Linked DNA regions of Homo sapiens. The protein of the gene in region 4 interacts with the protein of the main gene of each other region in a pairwise test. Each region holds a gene or a part of one and is shown on either strand. Other genes may lie near its edges.

The links.
Region 1: the proteins of ZBTB8A (region 4) and ZNF329 interact in binary tests that used the Homo sapiens proteins (3 or more experiments, as listed by UniProt).
Region 2: the proteins of ZBTB8A (region 4) and SYT6 interact in binary tests that used the Homo sapiens proteins (3 or more experiments, as listed by UniProt).
Region 3: the proteins of ZBTB8A (region 4) and ZBTB17 interact in binary tests that used the Homo sapiens proteins (3 or more experiments, as listed by UniProt).
Region 5: the proteins of ZBTB8A (region 4) and FAM161A interact in binary tests that used the Homo sapiens proteins (3 or more experiments, as listed by UniProt).
Region 6: the proteins of ZBTB8A (region 4) and ZBTB49 interact in binary tests that used the Homo sapiens proteins (3 or more experiments, as listed by UniProt).
Region 7: the proteins of ZBTB8A (region 4) and CWF19L2 interact in binary tests that used the Homo sapiens proteins (3 or more experiments, as listed by UniProt).

The regions. Positions count from the first base shown.
Region 1 is NC_000019.10:58,126,790-58,130,289, reverse strand, and holds part of ZNF329 (zinc finger protein 329), read left to right. Parts: intron 1-178; exon of another isoform or gene 179-352; intron 353-778; coding exon of another isoform or gene 779-786; coding exon 787-2,412; 3' UTR 2,413-3,500. UniProt on the Homo sapiens protein: May be involved in transcriptional regulation.
Region 2 is NC_000001.11:114,088,792-114,091,830, forward strand, and holds the end of SYT6 (synaptotagmin-6), read right to left. Parts: 3' UTR 501-3,039; downstream 1-500.
Region 3 is NC_000001.11:15,948,602-15,952,101, forward strand, and holds part of ZBTB17 (zinc finger and BTB domain-containing protein 17), read right to left. Parts: intron 1,762-3,500; exon of another isoform or gene 1,330-1,761; intron 1-1,329. UniProt on the Homo sapiens protein: Transcription factor that can function as an activator or repressor depending on its binding partners, and by targeting negative regulators of cell cycle progression.
Region 4 is NC_000001.11:32,545,927-32,549,426, reverse strand, and holds part of ZBTB8A (zinc finger and BTB domain-containing protein 8A), read right to left. Parts: intron 1-3,500. UniProt on the Homo sapiens protein: May be involved in transcriptional regulation.
Region 5 is NC_000002.12:61,840,561-61,844,060, forward strand, and holds part of FAM161A (protein FAM161A), read right to left. Parts: intron 1,801-3,500; coding exon 1,562-1,800; intron 22-1,561; coding exon 1-21. UniProt on the Homo sapiens protein: Involved in ciliogenesis.
Region 6 is NC_000004.12:4,303,751-4,307,250, reverse strand, and holds part of ZBTB49 (zinc finger and BTB domain-containing protein 49), read right to left. Parts: intron 1,114-3,500; coding exon 1,067-1,113; intron 1-1,066. UniProt on the Homo sapiens protein: Transcription factor. Inhibits cell proliferation by activating either CDKN1A/p21 transcription or RB1 transcription.
Region 7 is NC_000011.10:107,444,326-107,447,825, forward strand, and holds part of CWF19L2 (CWF19-like protein 2), read right to left. Parts: intron 1-3,500.

The DNA.
Region 1 (3,500 bases), on a different chromosome or scaffold from region 4:
GTGCAGTGGTGTGATCTCAGCTCACTGCAACCTCTGCCTACCAGGTTGAAGTGATTCTCCTGCCTCAGCCTCCAGAGTAGCTGGGACTACAGGCATGTGCCACCACGCCTGGCTGATTTTTTTTGTATTTTTAGTAGAGACGGTGTTTCACCATGTTGGTCAGGCTGGTCTTGAACTCCTGACTTCAAATGATCCACCTGCCTCCACTTCCCAAAGTGCTGGGATTACAGGAGTGAACCACTGTGCCCCGCCAGGTCATTGACAGTTCTAAGACTTAGACCCAGAACTTTTAGGTCACCAAGCCTGTGCTTTGTCCTATCCATGAATGCAGAACTTTGATGACAGAGCTGGGGTGAGAACTGTTCCTTCAGTGCTGTTGTAAGCTCATTGTGAAGTCAGAGCTTTGGAAATGTGTACTGATGGGCAGTGTGTGACAGGGACAAGAATGCAGTGGCTGGGATGGAATTCTAGGGGGAGCAGGGATGCTTGGCCTCTGGTCTCTCACATCTCAAACTAATCCTTTTGGTGATGATTTATCCCGAGGTCCATTCCTCCTGCCTGCTCTCTAGGAAGATGAAAATGCTACATGGCTCTTTTTGAATCTGTTCTTGGTTCCATTCCTTGGCTACGATTTTACCTCTTCCTTGTATAAATTTGAATTTAAAAGAGAAAACAAGTAAAAAAATACACATCTTTACACCTAGCCCATCATCATTGTCTGTTTCTCTTACAGATAAAGCTTCATATACCTAAGTCTGCATTTTTCTTCTTTTTGCAGTTTGGGATATGAGATTGAAAATGACGACTCGGAATTTTCCTGAGAGAGAAGTACCCTGTGATGTAGAAGTGGAAAGATTCACAAGGGAAGTTCCCTGCTTGTCCAGTTTAGGTGATGGTTGGGACTGTGAGAACCAGGAGGGACACTTGAGGCAATCAGCTTTAACTCTGGAGAAACCAGGGACTCAGGAAGCAATTTGTGAATATCCTGGTTTTGGGGAGCATTTGATTGCAAGCTCAGACCTTCCACCGTCTCAGAGAGTTCTGGCAACAAATGGTTTCCATGCACCTGACTCAAATGTTAGTGGTCTGGATTGTGACCCCGCCTTACCCAGCTATCCTAAAAGTTATGCAGATAAGAGAACTGGTGACAGTGATGCCTGTGGAAAAGGCTTCAACCATTCCATGGAAGTTATTCATGGAAGAAATCCAGTGAGAGAGAAGCCCTACAAATACCCTGAAAGTGTTAAGTCTTTTAATCATTTTACCTCTCTTGGTCATCAGAAAATAATGAAAAGAGGCAAGAAATCGTATGAAGGTAAGAATTTTGAGAACATCTTTACTCTGAGCTCATCGCTTAATGAAAACCAGAGAAATCTCCCTGGAGAGAAACAATATAGATGTACTGAATGTGGCAAATGCTTCAAACGGAACTCTTCTCTTGTTTTGCATCACCGAACTCACACCGGAGAGAAGCCTTATACTTGTAATGAGTGTGGAAAGTCCTTCTCCAAGAACTACAACCTGATTGTGCATCAAAGAATCCACACAGGAGAGAAGCCCTATGAATGCAGTAAATGTGGGAAAGCTTTCAGTGATGGCTCAGCTCTGACACAGCACCAGAGAATTCACACAGGCGAGAAACCTTATGAATGCCTAGAGTGTGGAAAAACCTTCAACCGAAATTCATCCTTAATTTTGCACCAAAGAACTCATACAGGGGAAAAACCATATAGATGTAACGAATGTGGGAAACCCTTCACTGACATCTCCCACCTTACAGTGCATCTCAGAATCCACACCGGTGAGAAGCCCTATGAGTGTAGCAAATGTGGAAAGGCTTTCCGGGACGGCTCGTACCTCACCCAGCATGAGAGGACTCACACTGGAGAAAAGCCCTTTGAGTGTGCAGAGTGCGGGAAATCCTTCAACAGAAACTCTCACCTCATTGTGCATCAAAAGATCCATTCTGGGGAGAAACCCTATGAATGTAAAGAATGTGGCAAGACTTTCATCGAGAGTGCGTACCTCATCAGGCATCAGAGGATTCATACTGGCGAGAAGCCCTATGGCTGCAACCAGTGTCAGAAACTTTTCAGGAATATCGCTGGCCTCATTAGGCACCAGAGGACTCATACTGGTGAGAAGCCCTATGAGTGTAATCAGTGTGGCAAAGCCTTCAGGGACAGCTCCTGTCTGACCAAGCACCAGAGAATTCACACTAAGGAGACCCCATATCAGTGTCCAGAATGTGGGAAGTCCTTCAAGCAGAACTCTCACCTGGCAGTACATCAGAGACTCCATAGCAGGGAGGGTCCCAGCCGGTGTCCTCAGTGTGGAAAAATGTTCCAAAAGAGCTCATCCCTTGTTCGACATCAAAGAGCACACCTGGGAGAGCAACCCATGGAAACATAATGGTTGGGGGCCACATGAGTCTTCCAGTTCACTCTCACTCCTGTGTTTAGGAGGCGTGTCTTAGATCTGACTCCTCTCTGGTCAGTAGAAAAGAATCCTTTAAGCTATCCAGTGAATTGATGAATGTGAGACATTGCTGAGCCACACTGTTAAGTCTGCTCATTGGGGAACTCCAGAGACAACTTAGGATGAGGGCAGAAAAGTCTTTGGGGATGATTCAGTCTGTACCAGACATGACAACACACACACTGGAATGAAATGTGCAAACATGGGGGTGACACCACAGAGAGAACCTGTGAATGCATTCAGAACATGATTGGAATGAAGAGCCCTGTAGTAGGGAGTTTCCACCTTGTACGTAAGCAAACACTGAATCAACTTTTTTTTTTTTTTCGGACAGAGTCTCACTGTGCAGTGGCATGATCTCCACTCACAGCAACCTCTGCCTCCCAGGTTCAAGCAGTTCTCCTGCCTCAGCCTCCAAAGTAGCTAGGATTACAGGTGCCTGCCACCATGCCTGGCTAATTTTTTCTATTTTTAGTAGAGACAGGGTTTCACTGTGTTGGCCAGGCTGGTCTTGAACTCCTGACCTCATGATCCGCCCACCTCAGCCTCCCAAAGTGTTGGGATTACAGGCATGAGACACTGCCTGGCCTGAATCAACCTTTTTTAAGTGTAATCAGAAAGAGAGGCTTTGGCAGGGGCTCTTACTGTGTTTTCTGTAACAACAAAGGTGTACAATGAGAGAGTCCACACAGTGCTGTACTGCACACACCACAGAATGTGTGAGATTTTCCTGTTTGAATGTATGTCTGCATTATACTCCTGCAATAATGCTGAGGACTCGTTGCAGGAGGGCAAACTAGGTGAATAAATTACCTGTGAATGAACAATGAAGTCGTTCCTCTTAAGACTGAAACAAGCAGGCCAGATGTGGTGGCTCACGCCTGTAATCCTAGCACTTTGGGAGGCCGAGGCGGCCAGATCACAAGGTTAGGAGTTCAAGACCAGCCTGGCCAGCATGGTGAAACCCCATCTCTACCAAAAATACAGGAAATTATCTGGGCATAGTAGTGTGTGCCTGTAAT
Region 2 (3,039 bases), about 82 Mb from region 4:
GCTCTCTAAATTAATTAAAAGCTGCAGGCGAGCAGAGAGATATTCTATTACATTAGAATGTTCTTTTTTTAAAAAAAAATGTTGAGGCTGCAATAGTATTTTCCCATGGCTTTGCCAAATTGTGTTTTACGATGGTTAGCAGGATTCTCTACTGGTGGGTGACAGCATCGTACTTCCCAGATGTGTGTGGCCCACTTCCCTAGGGGAGCTTCAGCATCTGCAGGGGTTGCTTGTTGAGCTGAACAGCTGAGGGAACAGCGGAGCCCTGTGCGCCAAATGATCTCCGAGCCACAAGCCTGACAAAACACAGGTGGATTCCAGCCTGATGAGGTACACAGGTATTCCTTGGACAGAACAAAAAACAAACAAGCCGTTCTGCTCTACCTCTGATAGAAGGGAAGTGGTTATCCATGTGAAGCAAAGATTGAGAAGAAAAGCTTTGAGATGTCCTGTGCGTGTGTTGACTGCTAAACCCCAGGAACATAAAATGACAAGAGAAATGGGCAAGAGACAGAGATTTAATTGAATAAAAACTCCAGGCTGTGACACGGGTGGGAAGACACAAACGAGTAATTAACAACATAATATTTTAAATGACAGTGCAATTAATTAACGTCCTGGGTAAGCGCAGAGGGGGAGGAGGGCGTCTTTCAGCCCGGAAACACTGCTAAATAAAGGAGAAGGGAACTTTTCATGTTTTTTAAAAAAACCTATGTGCAAATGGCCCTGGTTATCACAACTTCATCAAAGCTCACAGCAACAACCCGAGAGGTTTCTCCGGCCAGAGAAAGCCAACAAATGGATCAACTTTGTATTTCATTTTCTTCTTCTCTGTGAGGGAAGAGATACTGGGCTAGATAATGAAGTTGGCAGATGTTCAGGTTTCATTCATGATTCAGGCTGAGGAGTAGTCTACCTTGAGGGTGCTGGGGATGAGGCTGCAGGAGATAAAAGCCTCCCTGGGGTGGGCTCCCAAGCCTGTAGGAATTGACCCAGACTGCTAGAGCAGCAGCGGTTGCAGTTGGCCAGGGTGGTGTGGGGCTGGCTAGAATCTGTTCAGGACATGATTTTCTGAAACCACTGGGATGTTCACTCATGGGAGATAGCTGCTTGGATATAAGAGGAATGTCTCAGATGAGCAATACTATTGTGATTCACATTGATCACACTCCCTTCTCCAAGAGGTTAGAATGGGTTATACTCACCTGCCTAAGGGTTTAACGATGACAGCTGGACATGAATTTTGAGTTCACTTCCAGAAGGACCTTCTCACACTAATTTCTGGACTCCTTATGACCCAGGGAACTCAGTTGTCTCCTTTGTAATGGCAAGGCCTTCAGCATCTGTTCACTGACGGAAACGACTATCTTGATGGGGTCAGTCTAGAGTCAGAATCATAATGAAGTCTGTCACCTGCCAGGAATCTTGTCATGACCTTGGGTTTTTTCTCACTCTCAGGAGAACACCCAAATGTAGGACTACCAGACTAGGAAGGCCTGTCAATGACAAGATATCTGGGGAGAAAAGTCATCTTTACACATGAGTCCCTAGCCTAAGGCTCAGTACAGGGTGGAGTTTAGGTTTATCTACATTTACTTTTCTAAGCAGAAAATTCCTTTTGCCACAATATCCTGTTAACTCATGCCCAACCTGGTCATTTTTAGGGCTAGAAGATACTATGCAGCGTTCTATCAGCAGAGAAATCTGACAACTTGGTTTAAAATGAGGGATACTTTATTGGTCGCTGCTCCTCTACCATGTAGCATATATAAAGAATAAGACACAGGTGTGTGAACAGATTTTCTGTTCTTGATTTTCCACTGTTAAAAGAAGGGGTTCTTCAGCAGACTTGCCTCTTGCAAGTAGTACACACAGCTCAGGAAACTGGCACTGTGTCGCCACAAGTCGAAGTAGAAACTCACCTCCATGCGCTTACTGGGGTTATACAAACTGAGATTGAGCAAATCAACCTGGTTTTAGGGGTTGGTGGGAAGACCACTATTAACTCAACAGAAATGTGCTATTACAACACAGAATAGTTCAAACAATTTTTTTTTTCCTAAACTGAGTTTGGCCTAAGGTAAAGATCTAAAGGAAACAAGAAACCCTCACAACCACTGAAACAAACAACACTGAAGTACTTAGTAATTTATAGAACTAAAGTTTAAGATGAATATTGTCAAAGAGCCAAAGGGGCTGAAATAGGCTTACGCTGACTCGGTTTCAATCAAAAACATACTCTTCATAGAAAGATGGACTCAAACTGCTATTTGGATTTCAAAACTCCCCATTTGGAAAAGAACATTTAATCTAGGTTTTTCTTTAATCTGTTTAGGCATTTTAAACAGCAGCTTGATACTTCATGGAATTATAAAGCTATGTATAATGCAGAAATCATTCCAGAACATATGTTTCTCTCTTACTTTACAATCAAGATTATTTCTGAGGACAAAGATCCTGTTTTCAAACAAATGTGATCATTAACTGTGGCGCATCAGAAAACATATGGCGTGTTTAGTTTCGGCTGAACTGAATCATTCCTAAAGAAAGTGACTAAGTTCCCATGAGGAATCAAGACGTTTTCAATTCATGGGGAAAGCCAGCGAGGAAGGGGAGCGAGGAACCCTGCACATCAGCTGAAGGCTCACAAGCGCCTCAGAGGTCTTGTGATTTCAACACGGGACTGAGGGTCCCAGCGTGGTTTATGTCCTGCCAGCGAAGAGCTTCAAAGACTAGTAATTCACCTCACAAAGGCTCTTCCATGGATTCACCCCATTCCTGCAGGGCACTGAAAATGCAGCCGCAGTCCCACCACGCCTCCTCCTTTTCCAGGGTTGTGGAGCTTGCTGGAGACGCAGCATTTCAGAAACTCAATCCACCTCTTTCCAAAAAACTGTACCTTGTATTTTCTAGAACCAACTTCTGGGCTTTCCACCCTTTGTCTTTTCCTACTCTTTTTTTTTTTCCCTTTTCTTACCAGCAGACCCATAAAAAGTGAAAAACCACAAAAACATCACCTTGGGAGACACAAAAGACTAA
Region 3 (3,500 bases), about 17 Mb from region 4:
TTAAAACAAGTGAGGGCATTTCTGCCACAAAAGGGCAGTTCAGTCCAGATACCCCCTGCAAGCCAAACTCAACCAACTGGTGGCTCCTGTATTCCTGGGTTTACTGTCCAGGAAAAGTGGCCCAAACCAAAAAGCACTGGGGCACCAACACGAGGCAGCCGCCTCCGTATTCAGCCTGATAATAACATGAAAAAGCCAAAAAAGGGAACAAATACAGAACACTGAAATGTGTCATCATTTCAAAAATGAAACGACATGGTCACTTTAACATTTGTTACAAAAAGAATGCATGACAATCTCAGAATAAAGGACAGATGTTTCAATTGGACATGTTGGTCTTTAAGAAAACTTTCCTATTTTCTCATTCTCTCATGGACAGGTGAAGACAAGACGGTGTTTCATCAGCCAGTGTTGCAGAACTCGGCCCCTCTCAGGCTCTGCACGTACCCCATCCCCCGACAAAGCCTAGCTCTCCCTCTCTTTCTGATTCATGGGAACTACCTAGAGTTGCGGAGTCTTCTGACTCCAGAAACCTGTGTCCTGGTGGCCATCCCAGGAGAAACAACTTTGATCCTGACCCCAAGAGCTGCTGACCTGGCCACAACTTCTCTGTCAAGGGCCTCACTTAATGCCTGGAAATCCCACAAGTGAAAATGCTCAGGAAAATTCCATGGCCCAGTGCCGAGCAGTCTTGAACCGCACAAGCCGTGACTAAGTAACTATCTAAAACAGCTCTCCCTCCCGCCCCAACACCACCCAGAGTGGGCGTCAACATCAGCAATTGTCTAGGGAAAATAAGCGGGCCCTCTTTTCTAGAAAGAACCCATTTCAGAATGTTTGAAGAGAAAAATCAACACCCACTGTCTGGGGCCACATTAGACAGATTCAACTGGGCACGGCTGTCACGCCCTGGCCCAGGATCTGCTAAGGGGTAGTGAGTTCTCTGCCTACTCCTCCTCTTCTCTGAGGCCTGAGTCTGCACGGGGCTGGCTCCCCGGCTTCTGGGCAGGTGAGAGGGACACTTTGGGGCTCTCCGCCCCCAGTTTCGGCAGCTCTGCCCCGGCTCAGGCACTCCCCTGTGACATCAGCATCTTGGGGGGTGAATCACTGCCGCAGCTCTGAAGCTGCTGTGGCCATGCATGGCTGTCGGGCTGTGATGAGTCCGGAGGAAGCCACGCCCCTCACACCAGCACAGGTCGGCCTTGAAGGGCGCCAAGGCCTCCCACCACGTGATGTCTGGAAACTTTTCACAAGTGGGGGTATCTGCTGAGCGGGGGGAAGTGACGCAACAAATAACGGGGAGCATGGCAGTGGCAACAGGCATGAGCCACAGCGCACCAGCCTCCGAGCCACAAGTTCAGCGTTGCTGCTGCTGCCAGAGGCCCAGAAACAGCTGTTCCCTCCCCCTACACATCCCCGCGCAGGCTTTGGCTCTCTCAATGACATTCCTAAATGGCTGTGGCTAGAGCCCTAAGTGTAAGCACTGGAGAGCCAGGGCCAGCCCCGAAATCAGGAGGTAAGGCCCTGGGGCAGCTGGCCCCGCACCAAGTGCACCAAGTGGCTGGCAGCAGCACACGGCCACCTGGAGCAAAGCACAGAGGCCTTTCTCTCCTGTCCTCAGTCCCTGGAAGCAGCAGGTTCCTATCTGTGACCTGAAGGAACGCAAGGGAGAATCGTGGCTGCGCTGCTCCTATGCACTGGACATGGGGAGGCACCAATGTCCAGCTTGTGGATCAAGACCTGAAGGGCACAAAGGGCAAGGTGGGTGCAGAAGGAACCAAAGGCAGGGGCGAGGTGGGCCCAGGCCACGGCAACCCTAGAGCTGTCTTCTCCTGGCTGTGGAAAAGGTCACGTGAGCACACAGGTGTGTGGGTGGCAAGCCCTGGGCCTCAATTGCTAGTCACCCCCTACATACCCAGGAGCCCCAAGTGCAGAAGAGGGGAATACCAGGGCCCACACAGGGCAAAATCCTCAACTGGCTTCAGAAGCAGCCCATCTGGAACTTGCAAGTGAGGCCCAACCCTTCTCTCCAGGCTGTGTGCCTGGCTTCCTCACCTTCCCCAGGAGCCAACCCGAAACTTGAGCCACCCAGGTGCTAAAACAACCTGGGGAGCATCAGCTGAACCCCCAGAGGTACAAAGAACCCTCTAGCAGGAAAACCATCTGACTTGCCGGGAAGAGACATGTGAGGAGACTCCTAGCCAAGGGGAGGGACAGGATCAATCCCCTTGTGTGGGCCCAAGGCTGGGATGAGCCTCCCTGTGGCCATGTGCCCTGGGGCTTCCTGGCAAGCGCAGCCCCGCCCAGCCATACAGCTGTCCTGGGACTGGATGGATGGATGGATGGGTAAGCTAGATAGATTAGATAAGACACATTCGCTAGATAATAAAATAGTAAAGGCCCCAAGGACAGGGTGGGTGGTGGCCCAGCCCCCCACATACCACCACCCGCCAAGAGAGCAGCTGTGTGCCCATGAGCAACATTTTCCACCGTGCTGACTGCACTTTTCCAATGCAAGATGCCCGCCCAGAAGTGGGCTCCTCCCACACACGGGTGTTAGGAGGAGAAACAGAGGCGTCTATAATCCTCTGAGGCTGCCCCAGCAGAGAAACGCACCAAAAGGGAAGAAAACAGGAGAAATGATAAGAAGGGGGGAGGAAGAAGTGAAGATGGGCAAAGTAAGGGAAGGAAAGGAGAGAGAAGAAGGAAGGAAGGAAGGGAGAGAGGGAGGGAGGGAGGGGCCCTGTACCCACAGAGAGATCAGCAGCAGCTGAAATGCGCTTACCAGTACAATCTGGGACTGGCCTCCCAGGGGTGCAAGAGCAGCTCGAGGGGGCCAGGAGGGGGCGGACTAAGTGCTAAATGGTGTTACCCGCAGAACTGTGTCACTGTGGACTTTACAACCGAAGCCCCACCCTCACAGGGCAAGTGGAGCTCAGGGTCCCCCAGGCTGTTCCCCAGCCGGGAAGCTTTAACAGCCCCTCTCTCAAGGCCCGTGGCGAGACGGAGGCATGGCCGGCTGGGTCCTTCCCTCTGAGGGGCTGAGCTAGAACTAGGCAGTCCCCCACCTCCAACCCACGTGAACTGCTCTGGAGGGATCACCAGCCTGTATCCTAGTTCCCCTCTTATCTATTCCTCAGCGACAGGAACCCAGCAGGACGGCCAGGCTTGGAGGGACATAGGAAAAGGGTTTGGGAGCGAAGGGGTGTGCAGGTCCTAGGAACATATCCCCTCCTAAGTACGTGCTAGGAGGTGCTGTCTGGGGAGACGTTAACCACAGTAATCAGATCAACAGCCAGCTGCTCCCCATCGCCCCCAGATGTGCGGGAACACAGGGTGAAGAAATACTGTTCCCACCAGGCAGCCTGCCCCACCCCACCCTTGGAATACGGTGCCCATCGCTCAAGCACAAGTGTCAAGGTCTGTGGTCTTGTCTTCACCTTGCGTGATGGGCGATAAATATGTGCACTAGTTAAAGCAACTTCTAAGGAAGATCCTAA
Region 4 (3,500 bases):
TACCTCTTGGGTTCAAGCGATTCTCCTGCCTCAGCCCCCCAAGTAGCCGGGATTACAGGAACATCCCACCATGCGTGGCTAATTTTTATATTTTTAGTAGAGACAGGGTTTCACCATGTTGACCAGGCTGGTCTCGAACTACTGACCTCAGGTGATCCGCCCGCCTCGGCCTCCCAAAGTGCTGGGATTACAGGCATGAGCCACAGCACCCAGCGAGGTGTTTTGTTTTGTTTTGTTTTGAGACAGAGTCTGACTCTGCCCTCCAGGTTGCAGTGCAGTGACGTGATCTCGGCTCATGGCAACCTCTGCCTCCCGGGTTCAAGCGATTCTGTCTCTGCCTCTGGAGTAGCTAGGACTACAGGTGCGGGCCACCATACCCGGCTAATTTTTGTATTTTCAGTAGAGATGAAGTTTCACCATATTGGCTAGGCTGGTCTCAAACTCCTGACCTCATGATCGGCCTGCCTCAGCCTCCCAAAGTGCTGGGATTACAGGCATGAGCCACGGTGCCTGGCCCCGGCCAGGTATTTCTTTTTATCAATGAGAGCATGGACTAATACAGGGACAATAATAATACCTATAGCTTACAGAGCTGCGAGATGGAGAATATTAGAAGCTAATCCAAGAAACGTGCTTATAACAGTGCCTGGCTTATAACAAGCCCTTGATAAATGTCAGCTATTATTATTATTATTAATTATCTAAACATTTAAAAACACTGCTTTCAATGAGTACAAAATGTAAACATTTTAGAGTTTTATTGCCACACATTTTCTTGTCTTATACAAATGGGGATACAGAAAGGAGGCTCACGCCTGTAATCCTAGCACTTTGGGAAGCTGAGGCGGGTTTATCACCTGAGGTCAGGAGTTCAAGACCAGCCTGGCCAACATGGCAAAACCCCATCTCTACTAAAATACAAAAATTAGCCGGGCATGATGGCGGGTGCCTGTAATCCCAGCTACTTAGGAGGCTGAGACGGGAGAATCGCTTGAACCCTGGAGACGGTGGTTGCAGTGAGCCGAGATTGCACCACTCCACTCCAGCCTGGGCGGCTGAGTGAGACTCTGTCTCAAAACAAAAACAAAAACAAAAACAAAAAATGTGGATACAGAAAAAAAAAATGTTTTTTGACTGGTTTCATCATATTCATGTACCTAGAGAGAGTGAGAGCGATCATTTCAAAACTACATGTGTACCTGGGAATAGCAACCCTCGACTCCAACTAGTCAATTGCAGACCTCACCTTAAGGAAGGATTATTCTTTTTTTTTTTTTTTTTTTTTTTTTAATTTGAGACGGAGTCTAGCTCTGTCGCCCAAGCTGGAGTGCAGTGGTGCAATCTCGGCTCACTGCAACCTCTACCTCCCGGGTTCAAGTGATTCTACTGTCTCAGCCTCCTAAGTAGCTGGGATTACAGGTGCCGGCCACCATGCCCAGCTAATTCTTGCATTTTTAGTAGAGATGGGGGTTTCACTGTTTTGACCAGGCTGGTCTCGAACTCCTGACCTCATGATCCACCTGCCTCGGCCTCCCAAAGTGCTGGGATTACAAGTGTGAGCCACTGCGCCTGGTCTTTTTTTTTTTTTTTTTTTTTTTGCTTTGTTTGTTTTTTGTTTTAGACAGAATCTTTCTCTGTTGCTCAGGCTGGAGTGCAGTGGTGAGATCACAGCTCACTGCAGCCTTGACCTCCCCGGGCTCAGGTGATCCTCCCACCTCAGCCTTCTGAATACAAGTGTGTGCCAAATTATTCTTGAGAAACCATTTTTGCCTTTTTTTCTTTCTTTTTTTTTTTTTTTTTGAGATACAGACTTGCTCTGTCACTCAGGCTGGAGTGCAGTGGCCTGAGAATGAGATCTATAACCTAAAATAAGATTTGCAACCTAAAAGTTTATGTTTTAATGTTGCTGAGTACAGTGGCTCGAACCTGTAGTCCCAGCTACTCAGGAGGCTAAGGCAGGAGGGAAGATCCCTTGAGCCCAGGAGTTCGAGGCTGCAGTGAGCAATGCTCATGCCACTGCACTCTAGCCTGGGCAACAGGGCAAGACTCCATCTCTACTAAAAAAAAAAAAAAAGAAAGAAAAGAAAATTTGTTTATACTTAGAATACTACTCTAATGTATATATTTAAAAAGTCATGGATAAAATTATGGCTTAGTTTGGTTTGCTGAGGTATCTTCTGGTGATGAAAAATACATTGCAGATTTTGGAATAAAACTTCCCCCAGCCGGGCATGGTAGCTCATATCTATAATCCTAGCACTTTGGAAGGCCCAGGCAGGAGGATCACTTGAGCCCAGGAGTTCGAGACCAGCCTGGGCAACATGGCGAGACCTCATCTCTACAAATAATTAAAAAATTAGCCAGGTGTGTGGTAGTATATGCCTGTGGTCCCAGCTACTCAGTAGGCTGAGGTGGGAGGATCACTTGAGCCTGAGAGGCTGAGGCTGCAGTGAGCTGTGATTGTGCCACTGCACTCCAGCCTGGGCAACAGGGCAAGACCCTGTCTCAAAAACAAAAACAAAAAACTTCCCCCAGATATTCTGGAACTGTAAGAATTTTATGTTGGACCTAGTCCAACAGCGCCAGGGAGACAGAGGGAACTGAAGGTGATATAAGGCATCCGCTATGCCCTCCGTGTTTCACATGCTGCTGAGAGCCACAGGATTCAAAGCAATGGAGGTTTTCTGAAGGGTCAGAAAAACAGCCGAAAGAAAACAACTTCATCTTTTGATACAATCATTAATTTTACATTGTTCTGAACTCCACAGAAGTATATTTTCCTTTTTTAAATTCTTGAGACAAGGTCCCACCAGCCTGGAGTGCAGTGGTACGATCTTGGCTCACTGCAGCCTTGGCCTCCGGGGCTCAAGTGATCCTGCTTCAGTCTCCCACATAGGTGGGACTATAACAGTGTACCACCATGTCTGGCTCTTTCTATATTTTAACAGAAAAATCTTTTATTTATTTATTTATTTTTTTTTTTGAGACAGAGTCTCACTCTGTTACCCAGGCTGGAGTGCAGTGGCATGATCTTGGCTCACTGCAACCTGCCACTCCTGGGTTCAAGTGATTCTCATGCCTCAGCCTCCTGAGTAGCTGGGATTACAGGCACGCACCACCACACCTGGCTAATTATTATATTTTTAACAGAGACAGGGTTTCGCCATGTTGGCCAGGCTGGTCTCAAACTCCTGGCCTCAAGTGATCTGCCCGCCTTGGCCTCCCAAAGTGCTGGGATTACACGTGTGAGCCACTGTATGTGGCCCTTTTACTCTATTTTTATGAGAAGGGCAGATACTCAAATTGGCAGGTGAAACGCATTTTATTCAAGACATATTTATTGAGCAACTACTCTATACCAGACTATACCTGGTCCTGAGAATATAGAGGTGATGAAATGTCAAAGGTCAGTGCTCACTTTCAAGCAGCTCACTGTCTAGTAGGAGAGAGAGAGAGTCAGAGAAGAGACAGGAAGAGAAGAGACTTCTAGACAAAGTGAC
Region 5 (3,500 bases), on a different chromosome or scaffold from region 4:
GAGTTCTTTTCTGATACAGATCTAAATGAGAAGAATAACTATGTTATACTTTCAGTTGTATGTGACCAAATATAAAAATTAAGAGTTACATATTTTCTTTTTTTTTCTGAGACAGAGTCTCACTCTGTTGCCCAGGTTGGAGTGCAGTGGTGTGATATCGGCTCACTGCAACCTCCACCTCCCAGGTTCAAGCAATTCTCCTGTCTCAGCCTCCCGAGTAGCTGGGACTACAGGCTTGTGCCACCATGCTCAGCTAATTTTCTGCATTTTTAGTAGAGACAGGGTTTTACCAAGTTACCCAGGATGGTCTCAATCTCCTGACCTCGTGATCTGCCTGCCTCCGCCTCCCAAAGTGCTGAGATTACAGGCATGAGCCACTGTGCCCAGCCAAGAGTTACATATTTTCTAAGATCAGGGTATAATCAGAAGCGAGGAGCTGGACAGGGCTTGTAAGAATCATCACTTTTATTTGGAATAGAGCTGGGCAATGCCCATAAATTATCCACTTTGACTCCTTCATTTTACAGGGAAGGAACCTGAGATGGCAGAGGGTCCTTGTGTCTAACCTCTATTAAATTCTCCCCACTTTCCAGAGTCACTGTCCTGAAGCATAGATCTGATCATGTCATTCCCCTGCTTGAAACTTTTTGATAATTCCTCACTGCTACGAAGTCAAGCCTAGATTACAAGCCCTTCGAGACTGGCGCCTATCTTTTCAGTCTTACCCCTCACCACTGGCTACCCCAGTCTCCATTCTGCATTCATATCCAGTCCTGTGAAGTTCCTCACACACGATATGATTTCTCATGCCATCTTGCCTTTGCATACATGGTTTCTGCTGCCTAGAAGGCCAATACTTATTCCTCCTCCAAGACTGAACTCAGATGTGACACTTTAGTGGAAAATTCTGGCCTGCATCCCTCTGAAAGCTTGGCATGACCAACTGCTTCTTCCTCTGTAACACTCTGTTACATCATGCTGTAATGCAATTTTTGGTTCTCAGCTAGTCTCTAAGCTCCTTGAGGGCATCTTGTTTTTGACTCCTCAGCGCCCAGGCATAGTCTGGCACAAAGGAGACATGCAAGCATCGCTGACTGACTAGATGTGTAAGTCTCAGAGCAGGTGAGTTCACAGCAGAAATGGGTCTTGAAATTGCAGACTATTTTGAAAACATAAATCAGATTCATGTCTCCTAGTCCTGAACTCTTTGTACTAGATCTTTAATGAGCTCATGTTAATCCACATATTATAAAGAGCTTTTAAAATTAAACTTTTATATTTACCAGTTAAAATGGCACAGACTAAGTATTTTGATACATGCCCTCAGTTCTATGGGTGGGTCAGAAAGAAAAGACCAAATGGCCACCAAATGACCCTCAAGCAAACGGTCATCCAGTAAGCTGATAAGCCATTAAACATTTTGAATAAAATCCTACCTCTGTATATCGTTGGGAGTACAAAGGGCTATTTAAGAGAAAATATTATGAAGTAACTTTGTTCTGTCCTTTTAAGGATACATTTTATTTTATACTCCACAAATAACATTGAGTTACAAGCTTACCTGGAAGAGTCACTAAGAGAGTCTTCTCTGATGACCACTGGCTGAACTTCCTTTAAATGTAATTTATCCTGGTACATTTTCTCTAATTTTGCCATAGTTTCTATGTGGGCAGCCTTCAACTCTTCTACTTTCTTGAAATACTCCTCATTAGAGTGGTGAATATCAGGAAAGTTCACAAAGTCCTCATAGCTTATCGGTGCATGTTCATCCACCCCAGAAAAGCTGGTGTTCAAATCAGCCTGGTGGGGAGAAAACACTTGATATATAGTGACTGGAGCTGAAAGACAAATTAAGCTGACACTGATCCAAAATGCTGCTTCTTAAAGAGTCCACCTAGTTAGGTTATACATTAATTATGGGCTATGCATATAGAATGAGTTATAGGTTATTTGTGGGCTATGTACATTTTCCCCAGTGATATTTTAAGAACGAGAGGGAGCAAGACCAAACTGTCAGAAAATAAATGTTATTTAATCCATTTGATAAAGGATGGTTCAATTCCCAGATCAACCAACAAAAGGTATAATAGGATAGAACCCAACAACCCTTTACAAAGTATTTCTATAAGGAGCCTCCTGAGTTGTAAGTTTTAACTGAGATGAAGAGGAACACGGTTCTACCTGCTGTAAACCAGGCAACCACAGCCCAATGCTCTCCCTCCAGCTGCGCTCCTGCAGTGTGGCTCCAAGGACTGCCAGTGGAGAGAAGGCAGGGAAATAGAGGAAATGGGGGCAGGGACAAAGTTCTCAGTGGCTTATCAAGGAGCCAGGGAGAAGCCCTCCTCACAGTGGGGCAAGACTTTGGGAGGGAGTAAGAGGACATGGGAGGGGGTAGGAGGGACTTTCAGGGTAGCTGCTTCTGTGGGCACAAAAGCAGTAGCTCCCATGGGTGACCGGGACTTTAGGATGACAACAAAGCAAAGAAGAAAAAATGCTGTAATTATTCAACATACAGATCATGTTTAGAAGGGTCTGACTGGCCTTTCTCCCTCACTCCCTTTACATACCTTTCAGTTTTTTTGTTTGTTTGTTTGTTTTTACGAGACGGAGTCTCACTCTGTCACTCAGGCTGGAGTGCAGTGGCACCATCTCAGCTCACTGCAACCTCTGCCTTCTCCTGCCTCAGACTCCCAAGTAGCTGGGATTACAGGCGCACACCACCACACCCAGCTAATTTTTGTATTTTAGTAGAGACGGGGTTTCACCATGTTGGCCAGACTGGTCTTGAATTCTTGACCTCAGGTGATCTACTCGCCTCGGCCTCTCAAAGTGCTGGGATTATGGGCATGAGCCACCGTGCCCTACCCTTTCAGTTCTTTTAATTGAAGCAACTAAAGAGATAAAACCCCATTTTCTCCATAAATATAAAATTTTTATTATGTTCTCAGTTGAGAAACAGTTGAAATTATTTATGATACTATGCATAAAAGGCTGCCAACCACAGTTTTAAATTTAGCCTACTGTCTGGAACAGATGCAAAATGAAAAAATTTGCTACAGAAAATTATAGATCCAATCTGATAAGACTCTAGAAAATAATCTGTTTAGCTTCTCTCAAAATAAAAATTCAGAAGAGTCAATTATAAATAGTAGTTATAGATGTGGTATTTTTGTTTCCCACTGGAGGCTTCTCAGAAGATATGGTATTTTTTTTAATACGCTAAAATCAGCATACAAGAGGACAATGTTGTACTACTTGGGGTAACTTAAAGAAAACAACTTTTAAAAAATCAGTCTTCAGAGGCCGGGCACGGTGGCTCACGCCTATAATCCCAGCACTTTGGGAGGCCGAGGCAGGTGGATCACGAGGTCAGGAGATTGAGACAATCCTGGCTAACATGGCAAAACCCCATCTCTACTAAAAATACAAAAAATTAGCCAGGTGTGCTGGCGGGCACCTATATTCCCAGCTACTCGGGAGGCTGCAGCAGGAGAATGGCG
Region 6 (3,500 bases), on a different chromosome or scaffold from region 4:
CTCCTGGATGGGAGAGAAGACATGGCCCCAGGCCCAGAGAAATGAAGTGCTCAGGAGGACATGACCCGACCGAGTACGCGATGAGAGACGGCGAGGACTTGGTGAATCCCAGCAGGCAGGGACTCAGAGAGTGGGAGGGTGAAGAGTCATTAAGATGGCAGGTTTGGGTGTGTGAGCAAATGGAACTGACACCCTCAACAGATGAAGAGAAACTGGAAGAGTCTGCTCTAGGGGGAATGCGAGCAAACACGGCGCTTGCCATTTCCAAGCTCTGCGGGGCCTGCCTCCCAGCTCCAGAGGCATGCACTGCTGCCACAGGATCTACCATGCTGTGTGAGACAGTCGTGCCAGTGACTGTGCCCTGAAGAGCTGCGCCCTCACGCCCTGGAGCAGCTTCCATCTGATCTACCTCTGGAAGCCCAGGGCACTGCACATGGCGGTGAATAGTTACCTTCTGTTTCAGAAAGAATAGGTTCCCACAAGCCATTTTCTAGAAAACATTAGGTCTCTAGGTTTCTTTGTGTCCCATGCCCAGCACAGCACCTGGCCCATGGGAGGGTAAAACAAACGTTTCCTCAAGGACTGAATGCCTATGTGTCCAAATGACCTTAATGGAGGTCAGCTAAAGGTAGCAGTCAACACAGGGAACAAAACTTGTTTCATCTTTTTTTCCAACATCCTACAATCTACAGTCCCAACAAGAATGAGGAGACCTAGTTGTCTTCAGCCTAACCCAGCACAATGTGCAGCCTCCAGGTACGCCAAGCTCAAGGTGGTTCACTGTGAACTTCATTCATGAAACGGAAGACATATGCTAAGTTTGGACTCATCCTTAGCAAGGCGAAAAAAGTATTGTAAGAATTCACACATGAAAATGCTATTTTTCTCTCAAAGAACTAGAAATCTGTTTTCTTGAAAACGATTTATCCTAATTTATTCTGAAGTCTTTAAGTTACAGACATCATTAGAGGCTTCTCTCACAAGTACAAAAGTATGTCTTATTTCCAATAAAAAAACACTGTGTTGCAGGTTTCCAATTATTAACAATAAATAAGAGTATTCCCACCTGAGAGAAATGTTTCCCACAAATGTTACATTCAAAAGGTTTCTCACCTAAAACAAAACAAAACAACAACTTGTAAAATCATTACTAGTATTTGTTCAATAATTTTTTGTTTAAATGACCTCCTATGTACTTTCAAAATGGCATTACATTCTGCATCCTAACAGTATGAAAATAGGGAGTGTCTACTTCCTTATATTTCTCTCTTGCCTTTATTTCTACACAGAGATGATAAAAGTAATATTTTCCTCTAAAAACTTAAACTGTTCTCCAAACAAAACTTATGTTAAAATCAATGTATTTATTTGCATCCAGAGCAGACCCACGTTCTGGAAGTGGTCTTTTCCTGTGGTTGAGTTTTCCTGCTGAACAGCACGATCCCGCTCACCTATTCTTCAGCCTGATGCCACCCAACCACCAATCCTAACAGACACAGGGTCACTGGTTCACACCACACAAGGTATGAGCACAGAGAGCCCCAAACACAGTGGGTCGTCCTGAAGCATGAGTGTGAAAAGGAAAGAGCCCCTCACCACAGTCTTCCTGCCTTGGTTCTCACGAGAGAAAGTAAGATTTCATTTTGGGAGATGTGCTCCTCTGCGGACTTCTTTATCACCTCTAATTTCAATAACTAAGTAACTGCGCTTGGGGACAGAACAGATTCTAAGAATGGTACTCTACTACAAAAAAACCACAGCTGTTCTGAAATGTGGCCTACAGAACATGATCTGAATTTAAAAGCACACTCCATGGTACTGCCTTTAATCTATATAACGCTAATGAATAGACTTTGAACACTAAGAACCTCTCATTTTCTCCATTTCCCTGAAATCAAATGGTTTCATTAAGATCTTCTTTAAAAAGTAACAATAATGTTTTCCCTTCCTACTATATCGTTGGGGCTTGCTACCTTGAAGAAAGCAGCTTGCTAGCTTTCTGGGCTCATTCTAGGATATTTTAATTTTATTTTATCCTGAAAATGTCTAATGGCTTCCTTGACCCTGAATAATTATATTTATATTAATAATAAATTAATAATTACATTAATTCTGTATTGCAATAAATGAAACTACATTTATGTCTGAAATTATTGGGGGTGACAGATAATAAGTTAAAGCCCCCATAAGAAATATAAGAATTTGAAAAGAGAGAGAGGTCACCAGTTACTAAGACTAATAAATGACCAAGGTTAACAATCCTACTCCAGTAGGCCTCAGACTTTTTGGCCTCAGGACCCCTTCACCTTAAAATTGAGGTCCTAAAGAGCTTTTGTTAATATGGGCTATAGCTATTGATATCTACCATACTGGAAATGAAAACAGAGTGACCTTTAGAACAGGTAAATACACACTTCACAGGCCACCAGGGTGAGGACTTCATCACACATCATGTAGCTTTGGGCAGACTAACTGTACACTCATAAGAGGAGGAAAAAACAACTAACATCTTAGACAATTTTGAAAATAGTGTTGGCCTCACAGACCCCCAAAAAGGGTTCCCCAGACCATACTTTGAGAATTGCTGCCCTTCTCGGTAGAATATTTATGTGCCAGTAAGCATCTTTGCCATGACTGTATCTGTCATTCAAAGAGGTTCTCCCAGAATAAACAATTTTTGATTCCTTTAAAAGCTAAGCAGGTAAGTTTCACAATAAAAAATTACAGCCATCGGGCCAAGCGTTGTGGCTCATGCCTGTAATCCCAGCACTTTGGGAGGCCGAGGTGGGCAGATCACTTGAGGTTAGGAGTTCAAGATGAGCCTGACCAACATGGTGAAACCCTGTCTCTACTAAAAATACAAAAAAATTGGTGGCGCATGCCTGTAGTCCCAGCTACTCGGGAGGCTCAGGCAGGAGAATCAATTGAACCCAGGAGGCAGAGGTTGCAGTGAGCCGAGATTGTGCCACTGCACTCCAGTCTGGGCAACAGAGCGAAACTCTGTCTCAAAAAAAAAAAAAAAAAATTGCAGTAATCATTAGGCTGTAGGAGATTTAGGCAAACAGAATCATCTAAAGTTTTTTCAGGGCAAAACTAAGTCTGTGATATTGCCTTCACGTGGAATAATTTTGAACTACTAGTGATAATAACAGTACTTTATATTCAAATGCACTAAAATGTATAAAGGGCCTTCACAATTATCAAAGAAATCTCCCAATAATACAAGGTCGTAAAATGCAAACTGTGAATCCATAGTGATAACAGAAGGTCACATCAACAAACACAATTACACAAACACCGTAAAAGCAGCTGCTGTGGAAGCATCCTGTTGCATGTTACTTCTCATGCCTATAAGGTAATTGTTGTTCATCTGTAATGTGCTATTAAACTCATGTTTAATTATAGGAAGAAAAGTAATATATATGTATTGTATAACATAATGTGTGTGTGTGGAGATATATATATAGAGAGAGAGAGAGACACACACACAGAGAGAGAGA
Region 7 (3,500 bases), on a different chromosome or scaffold from region 4:
CTGTGCCGAACTCAACAAAACGTTTCAGTCTTCAGCTCTCTAGACCTCTCTGCTTAATGCAACTCTGTTGATAACTCACTTTCCTGGCTTCCATGACACCTCTCAGCTCTCCTCCCACTCTGTTTCTTCTCCATTTCCTTCATGAACTCTTCCTCCTTTGCTTAGCCCTTAAATATCTTGTTATTTGGGATTCCATTCTTTGCCCATGACATTTTTCAATGTCTAAACATTCCCTTTGGGCCATTAAATCCATTCTGATCGCCTGAACTACAATAAATTGTGCTGATATCTTTCAAATTTGTCTAACCAAAGTTTCACTGACTAATTGTCTACTGCAGTTGGATGGCATGCTAAACTCAGTAAGAACAGAAGATAAAGCTATCCTCTTCTTCTACAAAATCTACTTCTCCTTGTATAGTATTGAACTGAGTTATCTGGAACAACCAACCACCCACTTAAACCAAGTCAGAAACTCAGGATGATGTTACCTCACATATTCAAGCCTACCATTTTCATTTTTAAAATATTTATTAAATATACCATAGAGTGAATACATGATTACCATACGAGCCTACCTCTATCCCTGGCCACTACTGATTAGTTCAAACGTAGGTACCTGACCCAATTCACATCAACCTGAGCCATTCCACAGGAATCTGAAATCAGGTCTAAATGGGCTTATCTAAAACTAAGAAATGGGAAGGCATTGGGAGAGGCCATTTCTGTCATGAGAAATAGAAATCAGCAAAAATTTTTTAAAAACTAGAACTCAGGGTAGGGGAAATGAAAAATGGCAAGAAAATTGCAAAAACCATTCACAATTCTAATTCCAGCTATTCTTGAAGCCTAGCTGCATTCCTACATCTATATGTCTTATGAGAATTTTGTACTTTAATAATAAATCCTTTTTGCAAAATCCAATTTATATTTAGTTTCTGTTACCTGCAACCAAAATACCAACTAATATTCTCTTCTTTGATCCTTAAAGTAGCACCCCAGGCTGGGCGCGGTGGCTCACGCCTGTAATCCCAACACTTTGGGAGGCCGAGGCGGGTGGATCATGAGGTCAGGAGTTCGAGACCAGCCTGGCCAAGATGGTGAAACCCCATCTCTACTAAAAATACAAAAATTAGCCAGATGTGGTGGCGCATGCCTGTACTCCCACCTACTTGAGAGGCTGAGGAAGGAGAGTATCTTGAACCCGGGAGGCGGGGGTTGTGGTGAGCCAAGATCGTGCCATTGCACTCCAGCCTGGGGGACAAGAGCAAAACTCCGCCTTAAAAAAAAAAAAAAAGTAGTAGCCCTAGATCAGATCTTATCTCTCACCTAAACAACTGATTCCAGGAGACCTAATTAATCTCCTGGACTCATCTTTCCTGCTCCCCTTCTTTCTCCAACCCCTCACCCCAAATACATTTAGAGTAATATAAAGGGAACATCTGACCACCGTACTTCTCTTCTAGGGCTTCCCATTACAAAGACTGCTAGTTATCCCTCTTCTTTCCTACCAACAGAATCCCATTTTATTTGGAGAAGTAATGTACTTCCCATGCTAGAAAGTGAAGCCTTATGATCAAGTGTCCAATTAGATGTAAACAAAAGTATTTTATGGGACTTTCTGGAAGTCAAGTTAAGAAAAAAAAGAGCATCTTCTTTCCTGTTATCTGGACTAAGAGGCAATGCTGTAAGGATGATGGAAAAGCAAGACAATAGAAGCCTAGGTCCCAGAAGACCATACTAGCCCTAGACTGTCTACCTGACTTATTTCATATCAGAAAAAAATGAATTTCTATCTTGTATAATCAATGGCTATTCTGAGATTTTCTAATAAATGCAGCTGAACCCAATTAGATGATACATTCCCTACTGAATAAAGTCAAAGCTCTTGGTTTACAAGGCCCTATTAATTCTTACAGTTTCATCTCCATTCACCCCCTCCTCTTGTTTTATAATTTAGTACTATCAAATTGCTTATAGTTATATTTACATACATACACACATACTCACACTCATATTATCTCATACTTCCATGTCTCTGCTCTCGCAATTCCTTATGCATGAAATGCCAAGCACACCTTTATTTGCCTAATGCTTACTAATCTATCTAGTCTCAATTCAAGCATCATTTAATCAACAAGTTAGCAAATGAAATCCCTCTTAATACCCTGTACTACCATGGCATCATGTTGGATGGTATGCTAAACTCAGTAACAACAGAAAATAAAGCCAACATCTTCTTCTACAAAATCTACTACAAAATCATATTATTAATATTATGTATCTATTTATCCAATTAGGAAATGAGTTCCCCAAAGGTTTAAAAATATATTTTTATATTCCCCATGTCTAGAACAGTGTCTGGCAAAGAATAAGCATTTGATAAATGCAAGCTGAAATTAAATGAAATGTCTTTTTCTACTCTTTCAATAGCACTAGTCAGAAACTTTTAAGCAGCAACCTATACTCATTTTCACAATTATGCACTCACTCACCTTACCACTTCAGCAAAATTGATGCTCCCCATGCTACGACTTCAGTTCTCTTGCTAATTTTAGTTTCAATCTCCATTTTACCTTGAACTCATTAACTATCAAGCTTAATACGCCTCCTGACCTAACACAGCCTTCAGGGCTCTCCTTCTCTTGTGCAGCCTGCAGAATTAACCACACCTCTAATTCTATCTAGTGGTCAAAACCTAGAAGGTGGAACTAAGACAGAAAAGTGCTACCAGCAAAACTCAAGGGATCTTGAGGACTTCTGCTTCTGTCCTTGACAAAATAAATGGCATCAAACTAGAAATACATACAAATTGGAATAAAAATGAAACTACAATCTCTACAGCTTTTTATCTAAAGGCACTTTCTAGACTGTGGCATAGAGGGGTAACCCAAGCAGAACATGAAAATCTCACTGAGCAAAGGAAACGGAATTTGAACTTTGTGAAGGCTGAAACAAAAGTACAGATGGGAAGTTACACAGAGAAAGGGTGCCAGAAATCTACTTAAAGGACCCCTGGAGTCTTTAAAGAAAGACCAAGCTGAACATGCTGAGGATGAGAGTCCACAAGGTCAGGCAAAGAAAAATTACCATGGAGAAAACAATTACCAAAGAGCTGTAAGCAGAACAATCCCCAGAGCTCACAAAGGGCTGGAAGACATTCTAGTTCCTCCCAACCAGAATAAAGAAACCTCGCTGAACATCCATGACAATCAGCAGAGAACCCACAAAGGTCATGCCTTAGTAGAAAGGCTAAACCAGTCCTAGAGTAAAGCTATTCTAGGTGCATACGAACAAAACTTAAAAACAATCCTTGAAAAGGATTAAGCTAATTCACAAGTAATTAACTGTATGCCAAAAGGAAACTCAATACTCTCTGAAGAAGTCAACAAAATCCAGCAGTCACAATATAAGTTTCATAGGGTTCAGCATCCAATTAAAAGTTACTAGACATTCAAAGAAGCAAGCAAATGTGACCCATATTCAAGAGAAAAATCATTTAA